2 separate regions of the Homo sapiens genome follow, and region 1 is linked to region 2. A link means that fine-mapping ties the variant in region 2 to the expression of a gene that starts in the linked region. Tissue or cell type: lung. Region 2 holds a variant in brackets; the other region holds the start of a gene. All regions are shown on one strand. Distances are between the middles of the regions.

What was found. PIP is the estimated chance that this variant, and not a neighbour inherited with it, causes the effect.
Region 1: it holds the start of SNAPC1, and the variant in region 2 is fine-mapped to the expression of SNAPC1 in lung (TOPMed, PIP above 0.99).

Annotation. Positions count from the first base shown.
Region 1 is chr14:61,758,675-61,766,781 of GRCh38, reverse strand. SNAPC1 (small nuclear RNA activating complex polypeptide 1) reads right to left here and starts at 4,362. Exons shown (of 10, transcript NM_003082.4): 1 at 4,194-4,362. The coding sequence starts at 4,321. RefSeq lists enhancers at 3,392-4,135, 4,136-4,879, 4,947-5,036, 4,880-5,623, 5,624-6,368.
Region 2 is chr14:61,842,639-61,850,746 of GRCh38, reverse strand. All of the region lies in intron 1 of SYT16 (synaptotagmin 16), which reads right to left. Among named protein-coding and RNA genes, the nearest start is that of SYT16, 34 kb to the right of the region's middle. The variant C/T (reference allele first, on the strand shown) is at 4,819.

The DNA of each region.
Region 1 (8,107 bases), 84 kb after region 2:
TTTGATGAGGATTCCATACCTGATTCTTTCATGATTCAAGCACAAAGAGATAATTTTACACCAAGGCAAAGGCAACTACTAGGTAAACATGACGCAGCTTCCAAAAGCATCAACTTTACTTGCCAAATTGAAGAGCAAGAAGGAAGGGGTTTCAAATTACTATTGGTTAAATATTTAAAACCCATAATGTTAAAATAATCATGGTTATGTTACAGAACTATGTGCATTTTAATATACAATTGCCAAAAATGCTTGTTCTTTGGTGCTATAAAGAAGTATCACTTGAACGTAAATTTTATTTCTTCAGCAAGGCCATTTTTTTACTTTCTGCACAAAAGGGTACAGTCGCCAGCAGTTTTGCTACACTGAACAAAGGAGACAGGGTCATTTATAACTTGACACATCTACTTTACTGCTGTGTCCGGTTTCTATTGGCTGGAACGGGACTTCACATTCTGTATCTGTCTTCATTGACTAGCAACTTAGAACTTGAAGTAACTTGTGGAATGCTGAGAAAGGTAAAAACACTTTTAAATAAGGAAGAAGAACAGGCTATGACTTAATGCTTGCTTGGACCAGTATAAGCACGCCAGGGCAAATATTTAGGCTAAATTGTGGGAGCTAAGAACATAAAATACACTGATTTCTTTATTACAGCTAGCAGATATTTAAGAATGTTAGCATAGGTCTTTGAATAAATTTTGCTTCTAAGATAAGTTACTATTTAGTCTTAATTAGATGGGGAGGAAACTCTTTGAAGCAGAACCTCTACTTTACTTTTTACCTAACGAACATTTTCTCCAATACTCTCAGGGATTTGCACTAAATCTCCTCTGTCCTTGCGAAGCCGAGGCGAAAAAGATAGAGAAACAGCACAAAGTAACCCGCACTCCTAATTGTCCAGAGCACTGCAAGCTCATCAGAAGAAAGGAGGAGGAAGGGAGAAGAGCATACTCCAGCATACAACCAAAAGCTTTGTCCAAACATCCAAGAGAGCAACAAGGCTTTGTTGGCAATCAATCAATGAAATAACATAGGAAATGTACATGAAAGGAAAGTATCTTGGGCACCCAAGATCACTAAGGAAAACTCAAGCTGGAAACTGCTTAGGGCAAACCTCTCCCATTCTATTCAAAGTGACTTCTCGGCTCACTGAGATAGATGCATATCTGATTTGCCTCCTTTGGAAAAGCTAATCAGAAACTCAAAAGAACGCAAGCATTTGTGTATCACCAATCTGTGACCTGAAAGCTCCCTCCCCACTTCCAGTCTTCCTGCCTTTGCTTCAAGTTGTCCCGCCTTTCCAGAACGAACCAACGTACTTCTTGCATATATTGATTGATGTCTCATGTCTCCCTAAATGTACAAAACCAAGCTGTGCCCTGACCACCTTGGGCGCATGTCAACACGACTTCCTGAGGCTGTGTCACGGGTGCGTCCTCAACCTTGGCAAAATAACCTTTCTAAATTAACTGAGACGTGTCTCAAATTTTCGAGGTTCACATATATTTTCTGTGGATATAAACAGCATAATGAATAAACTATCTGAAACTGTTCTGCTGTGCTAAGTTAACAAAAAATTTTAAAAAACAAGGCCTTAAAAAAGTCAATGTAACAGTCTTCTTACCACTTTGGATAAAACAATGAAGCCACATTTGTGCATATTATAGGTTTCTATGTAAGACCTGAAATTAGTAGATAAAAAATGCCAGATTTTAAATAAAACATTAGCTAAAATAAATGTCTCAAAGTGTTGATGCGAGTGACTAATACGCTATACAAATATAAATATGTAGAACTTTTACTTTAAAACCAGCAACAAACAATAAAGACATTTGCCCTGCAGCCATAAACACGGGCTCTATTATATCTGATTACAATGCAGGGGTGGAAGGGAAGGGGGTAGTAGGAGGACATTTTGGGTCTTCAAATAATAAATATAGGAAAAGAATACAAAATGCCTACTCTAGTTACGGTAACCAAAGTAATTTCTCAAGAAAATCCACCACTCTAGTGATTCCTGCTTCTTTTATCATTTTAGGTTCTCCCTACTAGAAAATGTAAATGTTACATTTTTAGCTTTTTCCTTAAATGCATTTTTCCCCCCAAGAAGTGGTACAGTGGAATATTAACGGATTTTAGAAACAGGCAGATACATAGTTTCCAACATCTGCTCTACAATCCACTATCTTTGTAATGGTGGAGAAATTACTTAACCTCTTTAAGCCTTAATTTCCTCATCTATAAAACAAGGATAATTATACCTGCTTTTTATAACTGTCTTATGCAATAAATAAAGCTATAAATAAATGGCATGTAGTAGCCATTTAAAAAAAAAAGTCTCTCTCCTTTTATTAACTGTACAACAAACAGCTCTTCATCCTCCATTCCTTGCAATTTAAAAAACTACAAAGGTAATTTGCTTACACTGACAGAGAGAAAATGAGTTTTTACATTTTGTTCAGAAAAAGTTTTAATCATAAGGTTTAACTCATTCAGAAAATCAGTTATTTCGCCTTTTTAATATTATATGTACTATGGTAATAAAAATAGATTCATCCAGTCACTGTCCTCACAGAGGTCAGTCTAGTCAAAGGAAAATTTTAAAACGGTAGTAATAATGAACATTTGACCAGCCTGGCCAACATGGTGAAATCCCGTCTCTACTAAAAATACAAAAATTAGCCAGGCTTGGTGGCACAAGCCGTAGTCCCAGCTACTCGGGAGGCTGAGGCAGGAGAATCTCTTGAACCCGGGAGGTGGAGGTTGCAGTGATAGGAGATCGCACCATTACACTCCAGCCTGGGTGACAGAGCAAGACTATGTCTCAAGAAAAAAAAATAATAATAATGAACATTTATTGAGCACTTAGAATGTATTTCTGATATATCAGCTCATTTAATCTTCACAACTACTATGAGGTTTATCATTGCCTCTATTTTACAGATATGGAAACTCAAGTAACTTGCCCCAAGTCATAGCGGACCCTGCAATCAAATGCAGCCAATTGGGTTCCATAACCTATGCCCTTAACAATCCCACACTGCCTTTTCAACTATACCATTACAACAAAATGTGGAAAGCGGTGACATAAAATAAAAACAGGGTGCTATGCGGGGAAAAAACATGAACAGCGTACTCAGTCTAGAAGAGCAAAAAAGACTTCCCCCGAGGATGTCATTTGAGCTTAACCCTGAGTGAAGAATAAGGTGGACAAAACAAGAGAGTTGCGGTGGAAACTCCAGGATTAGGAAAAGCCTGTAGAGGGCCCAAAGAAAAAAAAAAAAAAAAAAAAGCAGCTGCTGGAGCAAGAAAGTGAGTGCATGGAGGGGACTGGCAGGCGAAGCTGGAGAGATAGGCAAAGGCCAGTGAGGAATGGTCTTGGCAAGTCAGAGAATTCAAGCGTTATCCCAAAGGCAATGGGCACCACTACAGAGTAATAAGTCGGGGAGTGACATAATCAAATTTGCACTTTTGAAAAACAACTTTTGGGCCGGGCGCGGTGGCTCACTCCTGTAATCCTAGCGCTTTGGGAGGCCGAGGCGGGCGGGTCACGAGATCAGGAGTTCGAGGCCAGTCTGGCCAACATAGTAAAACCCCGTCTCTACTAAAAATACAAAAAATTAACCGGGCGTGGTGCCGGGCACCTGTAATCCCAGCTACTCCGGAGGTTGAGGCAAGAGAATCACTTGAACCTGAGAGGCGAAGGGTTGCACTGAGCCGCGAACGCGCCATTGCACTCCAGCCTGGGCGACAAAAGGAGACTCCGTCTCAAAAAAAAAAAAAAAAAAAAAAAAAAAGACAACTTTGGTTGTTGGAGGAAAAATTAATTCAATCTTGAAGGGTTTTGTCTTTGCTTGTGTGTTTTTAAACATCAGGTCCTAGAACAAGACTGGGGAAGGGCAAATGATAGTGGCCTGGCTCAGGGTGGAGATGGGAGAGAGGAGTTTAGAAGGGAGGCCAGGCAGAGACGCATATTTGGGAGGAGGCCGCAACAACCATCAGGGCACAATGAAATAGAGCAGGGAAAGCGCGTTGCCTGAGCACAGGGGAAGGTCCAGGAGTCATGGAGGCAACCTTCGGTGACTGCCGCTCTTCTCAGCCCTTCACAAGTGCAATATCGCCGGGAAGGAGGCAACTTTCTACACCACCTGCGGGCAGGGAGAGGCGGGTGGTGGACAAGAAACACCCACCAGAAGATAGTCCCGAACTTCATGTTTCTCCAGAGCTCCGTGAAGTCCTCGAAGCGTACACTGTCCGTCTCCTGGAAGCGGCTGAGCAGCGCCTCGCAGTCGGTCTGCAGGCCGGGAGGAGTCCCCATGGCACCCGAAGCCCGCACGCCTCCGAAGCCCGCACGCCTCTAACGGACTAGCCAGCGGTGGTCGCCCAGGAAACCAAGCCCGAACGGCCCGCCCCCTACGGCGTGCGCACACGCGCTCCGTGATGCATTATCCGGCACCTTTAGCTCCGCCTTTATCCGGGCTCTTGCCACCGGTCGTGTGCTTACTGCGCGTGCGTGAAAGCGTTCTGATGTTTTACTGGCTGAGATTGCTTTCACCCAGAGTGCTGAGATCCACCCTTCTTTGGAAGAGGTTTACGTCTAAAGTGTTGTGTTTGCTCACGAGCGGTTTTAGGTCTTCATTTTCCGCTAGGTTATGTAACTTGACTTTACCCTTACTAGCACTCTCCTTTAAACTGACCCTAGTGTGACATAAGTGAACTTTTGAGCTAGGAAAGAACAGTCCCAACCCCAACCCCACTCCCACTTGGGAAGAGAAGCTAAAGAAGGCTTGCTAGGAAACAAACTGCACTCATTCTCCTTCTGGTCATCGAGAACCCTAATACTCTGTACCCACATAATACGATGCTTAATGTGCGGCCCTCTCTTTGTAGCCCTGGCATTCTGCAACCACTCTTGAAAAGAAGAGCTGCATTTCATACCCTCTTGTAAACAGCCCTCCTCCTGCCCTGCCACGCATTCACCCCTGTGCTACATAGCACTTAGCAGAAAATACCTACTTGTTATATTCTTGTTATATTATTATTTGGATGAATTGCCTTTTTGTGTACACGCTGCCACCTAGCTTCCTTCCTCCAGGAGCTAGCTATGGAGTAACATTTTGAACTTTAGATCATTTCTCTGATTGAAAGGTAAGCTATCATTCTTTAGAAGAGGTATCCTGATATAATAGAAAAACATTGGGCTTTCTGTGTGTAAATGGAGTGTCAACTCACTTTACTTTTCTGATCCTTGACCTGTTTTTGTTTGTTTGTTTGTTTGTTTGGATTTGTTTGTTTTTTGTTTTGAGACGGAGTTTCGCTCTTGTTGCCCAGGCCGGAGTTCAGTGGCGCGGTCTCGGTTCACTGCAACTTCCGCCTCCCGAGTTCAAGCGATTCTCCTGCCTCAGCCTCCCGAGTAGCTGGGATTACAGGCATGCACCACTCCAACCGGATTTTGTTTTGTTTTGTTTTGTTTGTATTTTTAGTAGAGACAGGGTTTCACCATGTTGGCCAGGCTGGTCTCGAACTGCTAACCTCAGGTGATCCGCTCCCCTCGGCCTCCCAAAGTGTTGGGATTACAGACGTGAGCCACTGCACCCTGCCCTCTTGACCTGTTTTTTAAATGTTATGTAATATTTTATGTCACAGAAAAATTTATGCGATGTGTGAGATAAAAAGCATAGCAGTTAAACACCTGTACACCTTTCACCTGTGTAGGAACCAGAACATTACCAACGCCTTCACATCAATCTGCGATTTCCTCCTCTGACCTATTCCTTTGACTGTACCCTACTTTAATCACAGCTACTGGTTGGGCACGGTGGCTCACGCCTGAAATCCCAACACTTTGGGAGACAAAAGCAAGAGGATTGCTTAAGCACAAGAGTTGGAGACCAGCCTGGGAAACATGGTGAAAATTAGCCGGGCATGGTGGTGCACACCTGTAGTCCCAGCTACTCGGGAGGCTGAGGTGGGAGGATCATTTGAGCCTGGGAGATGGTGGTTACAGGAGACAGAGGTTGCAGTGGTGAGCCGAGATCGTGCCACTGCACTCCATCCTGGGCTACGGAGTGAGACCGAATCTCAAAAAATAAATAAATAACTACCTTGAATTTTGTTTCTCTTTCTCATGTATATATTTTATCACATATGTATGTATATTTAAACGGTATATTTTTTAGTTGTGGTTGGTTTTGAGTTTTATGAAAATGGTATTGCAACTGGCTGGGCGCAGTGGCTCACGCCTGTAATCCCAGCAATTTGGGAGGCTGAGGTGGGTGGATCACCAGGTCAAGAGTTCGAGACCAGCGTGACCAAAATAGTGAAACCCCGTCTCTAATAAAAACACAAAAATTAGCTAGGCGTAGTGGCGTGTGCCTGTAATCCCAGCTACTTGGGAGGCTGGGGCAGGAGAACCACTTGAACCTGGGAGGCAGAGGTTGCAGTGAGCCAAAATGCATTATTTCCCCCATGATAGAGTGGGGGAACCATTTGGGAAATGGTTCATTACAACAGATAATTTGAGAAGCACTGTTATACACCATTTCAGTCCACATTCCATTGGCCAGAACTCAGTCACATGGACCCATTCAGGTGCAAAGGTGGCTGAGAAACGTCATCACTAATTAGGCAACCTCTCCCCAACAATAGTTTCAATCGCTGGAAGAGGTGCACACGTCTTTGTTGGACCACGTATTAGCTCATTTCTGCTGCTATAACAAAATACCATAGAATAGGTAGCTTACAAACAACAGAAATTTATTTCTCACAGTTCTGGGAGGCTGGGAAATCTAAGATCAAGGTGCTGGCAGATTCCGTGCCTGGTGAGGGCTGCTCTCTGCTTTCAAGATGGCACCTTGTTGCCGTGTCCTCACATGGCATAATAGCGGAAGGACAAAAGAGGCCTAGCTAGTTCCCTCCAGCCCTTTTATAAAATCACTAATCCCATTCATGAGTCCTCATGACTTAATTACCTGCTAAGGCCCTACCTCTTAATGCTATCACATTGTTAATTAAGTTTCAACACATTGATTTTGGGAGACATTCAGACCAGAACAGACTGCCAACATGTCTGCTGCAATTTTATTCAGAAACTCTGAAAGTATTACCTTTCACTTTTAATTTACTGTCATCCATCTAAAAATTTATTTCTATGTATGGTATAAGGATCCTATTTCACTTTTTTCCATATGTATAACCATATGTATGTATATGTATTTCCCGTATGTATAATTTTCCAGCATCTGTTATTGAAAAGTCCATCCTTTCCCAAAATTCACTTCTGTTATATGTCAAGTTGCATGGCTAATTGCAAACAGTACACAACTATGGCTTTGTACCTGTTATTAAAATACCAAACCATAGTGCAGTATTTCCATTACTGTTAGTATAACAGTTACCACTCTAAGCCTCCTTACTACCCTCATCCCAAACACTTGGGCCCCCCAGGCCACAAATCCCTCAACCTCCCAGCCTCTAAAACTGAAGTGGTTAAGCCTGGCACAGGAAGGAACCTTCAGTGCCGGCTCCAGCTTCAGTCTACTCCTAGGGTTGTTATCTACTTTCAAGGCTCCATTTAGATTTCACTTCTCTAACACCACACTAATTACTACAGAGTATCTTGACTATTCTTGAATTTTCACTTTTTCATATAAATTTTAAATTTGACTTGTCAAATTTCTCTGATAGCGCCATTGGGATTTCAATTGAATTACATTAAATCTGTAAGTCAATTTGGGAAGGAATAACATCTTTTTTTTTTTTTTTTTTTTTTTGAGATGGAGTTTCATTCTTGTTGCCCAGGCTGGAGTGCAATGGCGCGATCTCAGCTCACTGCAACCTCCACCTCCAGGGTTCAAGTGATTCTCCTACCTCAGCCTCCCAAGTAGCTTGGATCACAGGCATGTGCCACCATACCCAGCTAATTTTGTAGTTTTGGTAGAGATTGAGGTTTCACCATGTTGGTCAGGCTAGTCTCAAACTCCTGACCTCAAATGATCCACCCGCTTCTGCCTCCCAAAGTGGTGGGATTACAGGCATGAGTCACTGCGCCTGGCCAAAATAATATCTTTATTGTATTATTTCTATCCACAAACATTTCTTTAAG
Region 2 (8,108 bases):
ACACATAATAGGGCAAATAGAAAGATTACAGGCATTTTCATCCAAACCAAAGCAATAGATTTTTGTTGAATGCATCTGATGTGGAGGGCACTGAAGGGATAAACATAAAAGAATCTCATTATTTGAAATGTTTACAATTTACTTACTGGGTAGACATAATAAAGTTAGATAAAAATGTTTTTTATTTTAAGAACAACCAACACCATTAAAAATAGGCAAATGATATGTACACTTCTTAAAAGAAGAAATGCAAACAGCTAACAAACCACATGAAAAAAAAGTTCAACATCACTATCAGAAAAATGCAAATTAGGCCAGGCACGGTGGCTCATGCCTGTAATCCCAGCACTCTGGGAGGCCAAGGTAGGCAGATAATCTAAGGTCAGGAGTTTGAGACCAGCCTGGCCAACATGGTGAAACCCCATCTCTACTAAAAATACAAAAATTAGCCAGGCATGGTGGCAGGTGCCTGTAATCCCAGCTACTAGGGAAGCTAAGGCAGGAGAATCACTTGAACCCAGGAGGCAGAGGTTGCAGTGAGCCGAGATCACACCATTGCACTCCAGCCTGGGTGACAGGAGCAAAAGTCCGTCTCAAAAAAAAAAAGAAAAAGAAAAAGAAAAAAATGCAAATTAAAACCACACTGAGATACCATCTTACACCAGTCAGAATGACTATTACTAAAAAGTCAAAAACAACAGATGTTGGAATGGATGCAGAGAAAAGGGAAAACTCATATTGTTGGTGGGAATGTAAATTAGTTCAATATCTATGGAAAAAAATATGGAAATGTCTACCAAGAGAAAAATAAATCATCATATCAAAAAGATACCTGTGGAAGTGGAGGCAGCACAAGATGGCCAATAGAAGCCTCCACCAACCATCCTCCCTTCAGGAACATCAAATGGAACAACTATCCACACAAAAAAGCACCTACATAAGAATGAAAAATCGGGTGACCAATCAGAGTACCTGGTTTTAACTTCATATCACTGAAAGAGGCACTAAAGAGGGTAGGAAAGACAGTCTTGAACTGCCAATGCCACCCCTCTCCCACCCCGACAGTGGCCACATGAGGTAAAGAATCTGTGCACTTGAGGGAGGGAGAGCATAGTGATTGTGGGACTTTGCATTGGAACTCAGTGCTGCCCTATCACAGCAGAAAGCAACACCAGACAGAACTCAGCCAGTGCCCATGGATGGAGCATTTAGATGAGCCCTAATCAGAGGGAAATCACCCATCCAAGCAGTCAGAACTTGAATTTCAGCAAGCCTCGCCACCACAAGCTAAAGTGCTCTGGGGTCCTAAATAAATTTGAAAGGCAATCTATGCCACAACGACTGCAACTCCTAAGCAAATCCTAATGCTGTGCTGGGCTCAGAACCAGTGGATTTTGGGGGACACATGACCCAGCGAGACACTGGCTGGGGCAACTAAGAGAGTGCTTGTGCCAGTCAGCCCTCCCCCAACTCCAGGCAGTGCAGCTCACAGCTCCAAAAAAGACTCCTTCCTTCTGCCTCAGGAGAGGAGAGAGAAGAGTAAAGACAATTTTGTCTTACAAATTGGATACAAGTTCAGTTACAATAGGATAGGGCACAAGACAGAGTCCGGAGGCCCCCCATTCTAGGGCCTAGTTCCTGGTCATCATTTCTAGGCAAGCTTGGGCCAGAAGGGAGCCTGCTGCCTTGAAGGGAAGAACCCAGTCCTGGCAGGATTCATCACCTATTGACTAAAAAGCCCTTGGGCCCTGAAAAATTTGTAGCAACAACCAGGTAATATGTGCTGTGGGCCTTGCATGACTCTGAGACATGCTGGCTTCAGGTTTGATCCAGCACATTGCCACCTGTGGTAGCTACAAGGAGAGACTCCTTCTGCTTGATAAAAGCAGAGGGAAAGGTAAAGGGGGCTTGTCTTGCAGCTTAGATACCAGCTCTGTCACAAAAGGGTCAAGCCCTAAGTGGGCCCCTGTGGTTTAGGTGCCAGCTCTGCCACAGTAGAATAAAGTACCAGGTAGATTTCTGACTCCAGGCTCTGTCTCCCAGAGAACATGTCTGGACCTTCCCATGGCTCAGGGAAACTCAGCGCACTGAAGAGAAGGACACAAGTTTAGCTGGTTTCACTACCTGCTGATCACAGAGCCCAAGGTTCTTGAGCAAACATAGGCAGTACCCAGGTAGCGGCTACAGTGGGCCTTGAATGAGGCCCAGTGTTGTGCTGGTTCCAGGTCTGACCATCAGAGTCCCAATGGTGGTGGCCACAGGGGTGCTTATGTCATGTGTCCTCCACTTCCAGACTGCTCAGCACAGAGAGAGAGAGAGAGACTCCTTTTGTTTTGGAGAAAGTAAGGAAAGAGAGCAAGAGTCTCTGCCTGGTAATCCAGATTATTCTTCCAGATTTTATCCAAGACCACCAAGGTGGCACCTAAGTCTGCAAGAGCCACAGCATTATTACTGGGCATGGGATGTGTCCTAATGCAGATACGGCTTCAGTGACCAAACGCTTAGATCACAACACCCAAATCCCTTCAAATACCTGGAAAGCTTTCCCAAGAAGAATGAATACAAAAAAGCCCAGAGAGTGAAGACTACAATAAATACCTAATTCTTCAATGTCCAGACACAGACAAACATCCACAAGCATGAAGACCATACAGGAAAACATGACCTCACCAAACAAACTAAATAAGCCCTCAGGGGTCAATCTGAGAGAGACAGAAATATGTAACCTTTCAGACAGAAAATCCAATAGCTGTTTTGAGGAAACTCGATGAAATTCAAGATAACACGAAGAATTCAGAATCCTATCAGATAAATGTAACAAAGAGATTGAAATAATTAAAAAGAAACAAGCAGAAATTCTGGAGTTGAAAAACTACAATTGACATACTGAAGAATGCATTAGAGTCTCTTAACAGCAGAATTAATCAAGAGAAGAAAGAATTAGGCAGCTTGAAGACAGGCTATTTGAAAATACAGTAAGAGGAGATAAAAGAAAAAATAATAGAAAACAAGGAAGCACATCTAAAATATCTAGAAAATAGTCTTTAAAAGGCAGAGTTATTGGCCATAAAGAGGAGATGGAAAGAGAGATACAAGGGTAGAAAGTTTATTCAAAGGAGTAATAACAGAGAACTTCCCAAACCTAGAGAAAGATATGAATATTCAAGTACAAGAAGGTTATAGAACACCAAGCAGATTTAACCCAAAGAGGACTACCTCAAGGTATTTAATAATCAAACTCTCAAAGGTCAAAGATAAAGAAAAGAGCCTAAAAGCAGCAAGAGAAAAGAAACAACTAACATAAAATACAATGGGGCTCCAATACATCAGGCAGCAGGCTTTTCAGTGAAAACCATACAGGTCAGGAGAGAATGGCATGACATATTTAAAGTGCTGGGGAAAAAAAGACTTTTACCATAGAATAGTATATCTAGCAAAAATATCCTTCAAAGATAAAGGAAAAATAAAGACTTTCCCAGACAAACGAAAGCTGAAAGATTTCAATAACACCAGACCTGTCCAACAAGAAATGCTAAAGGAAGTACTTCAATTAGGAAGAAAAGGATGTTAATGAACAATAAGAAATCATCTGAAGGTGTAAAACTCACTGGTAACAGTAAGTACAAGGAGAAACATACATAACATTCTAACTGTGGTGTGTAAACTAGTCTTAAGTAGAAAGATTAAATGATGAACTGACCAAAAATAATAACAACAACTTTTCAAAATGTAGACAGTACAGTAAGATATAAAGAGAAGCAACAAAAAGTTTAAAAACAGGAAGACAGAGTAAAGGCATAGAATCTTTATCAGTTTTCTTTTTGCTTGTTTGTTTATGCAAATAGTGTTGTTTTCTGCTTAAAATAATGGGTTATAAGATAGTATTTGCAAGCCTCATGGTAACTTCCAATAAAAAAACATACAACAGATACACAAAAGATAAAATGCAAGAAACTAAATCATATCACCAGAAAAAAATTACCTTCACTAAAAGGAAGGCAGGAAGGAATGAAAGAAGGAAGAGAAGACCATAAAACAACAAGAAAATGACAAAATGGCAGGAGTAAGTTCTTAACAATGGTAACACTGAATGCAAATGGACTAAACTCTCCAATCAAAAGATGCAGGCTGGCAGAATGGATGAAAAAGCAAGACCCAGTGATCTGTTGCCTACAAGAAACACTATTCATCTATAAAGATGCACATGGACTGAAAATAAAGGGATGGAAAAAGATATTCCATGCCAATGAAAACTGAAAAAGAGCAGGAATCACTATACTTATATCAGACAAAATAGATTTCAAGACAAAAACTGTAAGAGGAGACAAAGAAGGTCACCATATAATGATAAAGGGGTCGATTCAGCAGGAGGATATAACAACTTTAAATACATATGCACCCAACACTAGAGAACCCAGATATATAAAGCAAATATGAGAGCTAAAGAGACAGGCCCCAGTACAATAATAGCTAATAATAAGTGGAGTGCTCTACTTCAACACCCCACTTTCAATATTGGACAGATCTTCCAGACAGAAAATCAATAAAGAAACATCAGATTTAATCTGCACTATAGACCAAATGGACCTAATGTATATTTACAGAACATTTCATCCAACAGCTGCAGAATACACATTCTTTTCCCCAGCACATGAATAGACCATATGTTAGGTCAAAAAACAAGTCTTAAAACATTCAAAAAACTGAGATAATATCAAGCATCTTCTCTTACCACAATGGAATAAAACTAGAGGAATTTGGAAACGATACAAATACATGGAAATTAAACAATATGCTCCTGAATGACCAATGGGTCTA[C/T]GGAGAAATTAAGAAGGAAATTGAAAATTTTCTTGAAACAAATGATAATGGAAACACATAAGTCCCATACCAAAACCTGTGAGACACAGCAAAAACAATACTAAGAGGGAAGTTTATAGCTATAAGTGCCTACATCAAAAAACAAGAAAAATTTCAAATAAACAACCTAATAATGCATTTTAAAGAACAAGAGCAAGCCAAACCCAAAATTAGTAGAAGAAAAGAAATAAAGATCAGAACGGAAATAAATTTGAAATGAAGAATACAAAATATCAATGAAACAAAAAGTTGGTTTTTTGAAAAGCTAAACAAAATTCAGAAACCTTTAGCCAGACTAAGAAAAAAGAGAGAAGATCCAAATAAATAAAATCAGACACGAAAAGAAGACATTACAACTGATACTGCAGAAATTCAAAGGATCATTAGTGGCTGCTATGAGCAACTATATGCCAATAAATTGAAACATCTAGAAGAAATTGATAAATTTCTAGACACATACAACCTACCAAGATTGAACCATGAAGAAATCCAAAACCTGAACAGACAAGTAACAAGATTGAAGCCATAATAAAAAGTCTCCCAGGCTGGGCACAGTGGCTCACGCCTGTAATCCCAGCACTTTGGGAGGCTGAGGCAGGCGAATCACGAGGTCAGGAGTTCAAGACCAGCCTGGTCAACATGGTGAAGCCCCGTCTCTACTAAAAATACAAAAAATTAGCTGGGCATGGTGGCAGATGCCTGTAATCCCAGCTACTTGGGAGCCTGAGGCCAGAGAATCACTTGAACCCAGGAGGTAGAGGTTGCAGTGAGCTGAGATCATGCCACTGCACTCCAGCTGGGGTGACAGTGTGAGACTCTATCTCAAAAAAAAAAAAAAAAAAAAAAAAAAGTCTTCTAGTAAAGAAAAGCTTGCAACTCAATGGCTTCACTGCTGTATTCTACCAAACATTTAAAGGAGAACCAATACCAATCCTACTCAAACTCTCAAACTATTCCAAAAAATAGAGGACAGAATCCTTCCAAATTCATTCTATAATGCCAGAATTGCCTGATACCAAAACCAGACAAAGACATATTAAAAACAGAAAACTGTAGCCCAATATCTCTGATGAATATTGATGCAAAGGTCCTCAACAAAATATTACCAAATGGAATTCAACAATACATTAAAAAGATCATTCATTATAACCAAGTGGGATTTATTCCTGGGATGCAAGGATGGTTCAACATATGCAAATCAGTCAGTGTGGTATATCATATCAAGAGAAGGAAAAACAAAAACTATATGATCATTTCAATTGATGCTGAAAAAGCATTTAATAAAATTCAACATCCCTTCATGATAAAAACTCTAAAAAAATGGGTATAGAGGAACATACCTCAACATAATAAAAGCCATATATAACAGACCCATAGCTAGTATCCTACTAAATGAGGAAAAACTTAAAGCCTTTCCTGTAAGATTTGGAACACAATGAGAATGCCCACTTTCACCACTGTTATTTGACATAATACTGGAAGTCCTAGCTAGAGCAATCAGACAAGAGAAAGAAATAAAGGGCATCCAAATTGGAAAGGAAGAAGTCAAATTATCCTTATTTGTGGATGATATGATCTTATATTTGGAAAACCTAAAGATTCCACCAAAAAAAAACTATTAGAACTGATAAATTCTATAAAGTTGCAGGATACAAAATCAACATACAAAAATCAGCATTTCTACATGACAACAGTAAACAATCTGAAAAATCAAAAAAGTAATACCATTTATAATAGCCACACATAAAATTAAATATCCAGGAATTAAAGAAGGAAAAGATCTCTATAATGAAAACTACAAAGCACTAATGAACTAAATTGAAGAAGGCACCAAAAAATGGAAAGATATTTCATATTCGTGGATTGGAAAAATCAACATTGCTAAAATGTTCATACTACCCAAAGCAATCTACAAATTCAGTGCAATCCCTATCAAAATACCAATGACATTCTTCACATATATAGAAAAAAATCCTAAAATTTATATGGAACCTCAAAAGACCCAGAATAGCCAAAATGATCCTAAGCAAAAAGAGCAAAACTGGAAGAATCACATTATCTGACTTCAAATTATGCTACAGAGCTGCACTAACCAAAACACCATGATACTGGCATAAGAGCAGATGCATACACCAGTGGAACAGAATAGAGAACCCAGAAACAATCCACACACTTATTGTGAACTCATTTTGGACAAAGGTGCCAAGAGCATACACTGAGGAAAAGATAGTCTCTTCAATAAATGGTGGTGGGAAAACTGGAAATCCATATGCAGAAGAATGAAACTAGATCCCTATCTCTTGCCTTTTACAAAAATCTAATCAAAATAGATTAAAGACTTAAATCTAAAACCTCAAACTATGAAACTACTACAAGAAAACATCAGGGAAACATTTCAGGACATTGGCCTGGGCAAAAATTTATTCAGTAATACCCCACAGGCACTGGCAACCAAAGCAAAAATGGATAAATGGGATTGCATCAAGTTAAAAAGCTTCTGTACAGCAAAGGAAACAATCAACAAAGTTAAGAAATAACTCTATGGAAAGGTGTTCAACATCATTGATCATCAGAGAAATGCAAATCAAAACTACAGTGAGATATCACCTCATTCCAGTTAAAATGGCTTTCATTCAAAAGGCAGGGAATCATAAATGCTGGCAAGGATGTGGAGCAAAGGGAACACTGTTGGCTGGGATTGTAAATTAGTACAATAACTACGAAGAACAGTTGGGAGGTTCCAAAAAAAACTAAAAATGGAGCTACCATATGATCTAGCAATCCCACTGCTGGGTATATACCTTAAAAAAAAAGATATCAGTACATGAAAGAGAAATCTACACTCCCATGTTTGTAGCAGCACTGTTCATAATATCCACAATTTGGAAGCAACCTAAGTGTCCATCACAGATGCGTGGATAAAGAAAATGTGATACTTTTTTAAATTTTTCTTTAATTATTATTATTATACTTTAAGTTTTAGGGTACATGTGCACAATGTGCAGGTTTGTTACATATGTATACATGTGCCATGTTGGTGTGCTGCACCCATTAACTCGTCATTTAGCATTAGGTATATCTCCTAATGCTATCCCTCCCCGCTCCCCCCACCCCCTAACAGTCCCCGGTGTGTGATGTTCCCCTTCCTGTGTCCATGTGTTCTCATTGTTCAATTCCCACCTATGAGTGAGAACAGGCGGTGTTTGGTTTTTTGTCCTTGCGATAGTTTGCTGAGAATGATGGTTTCCAGC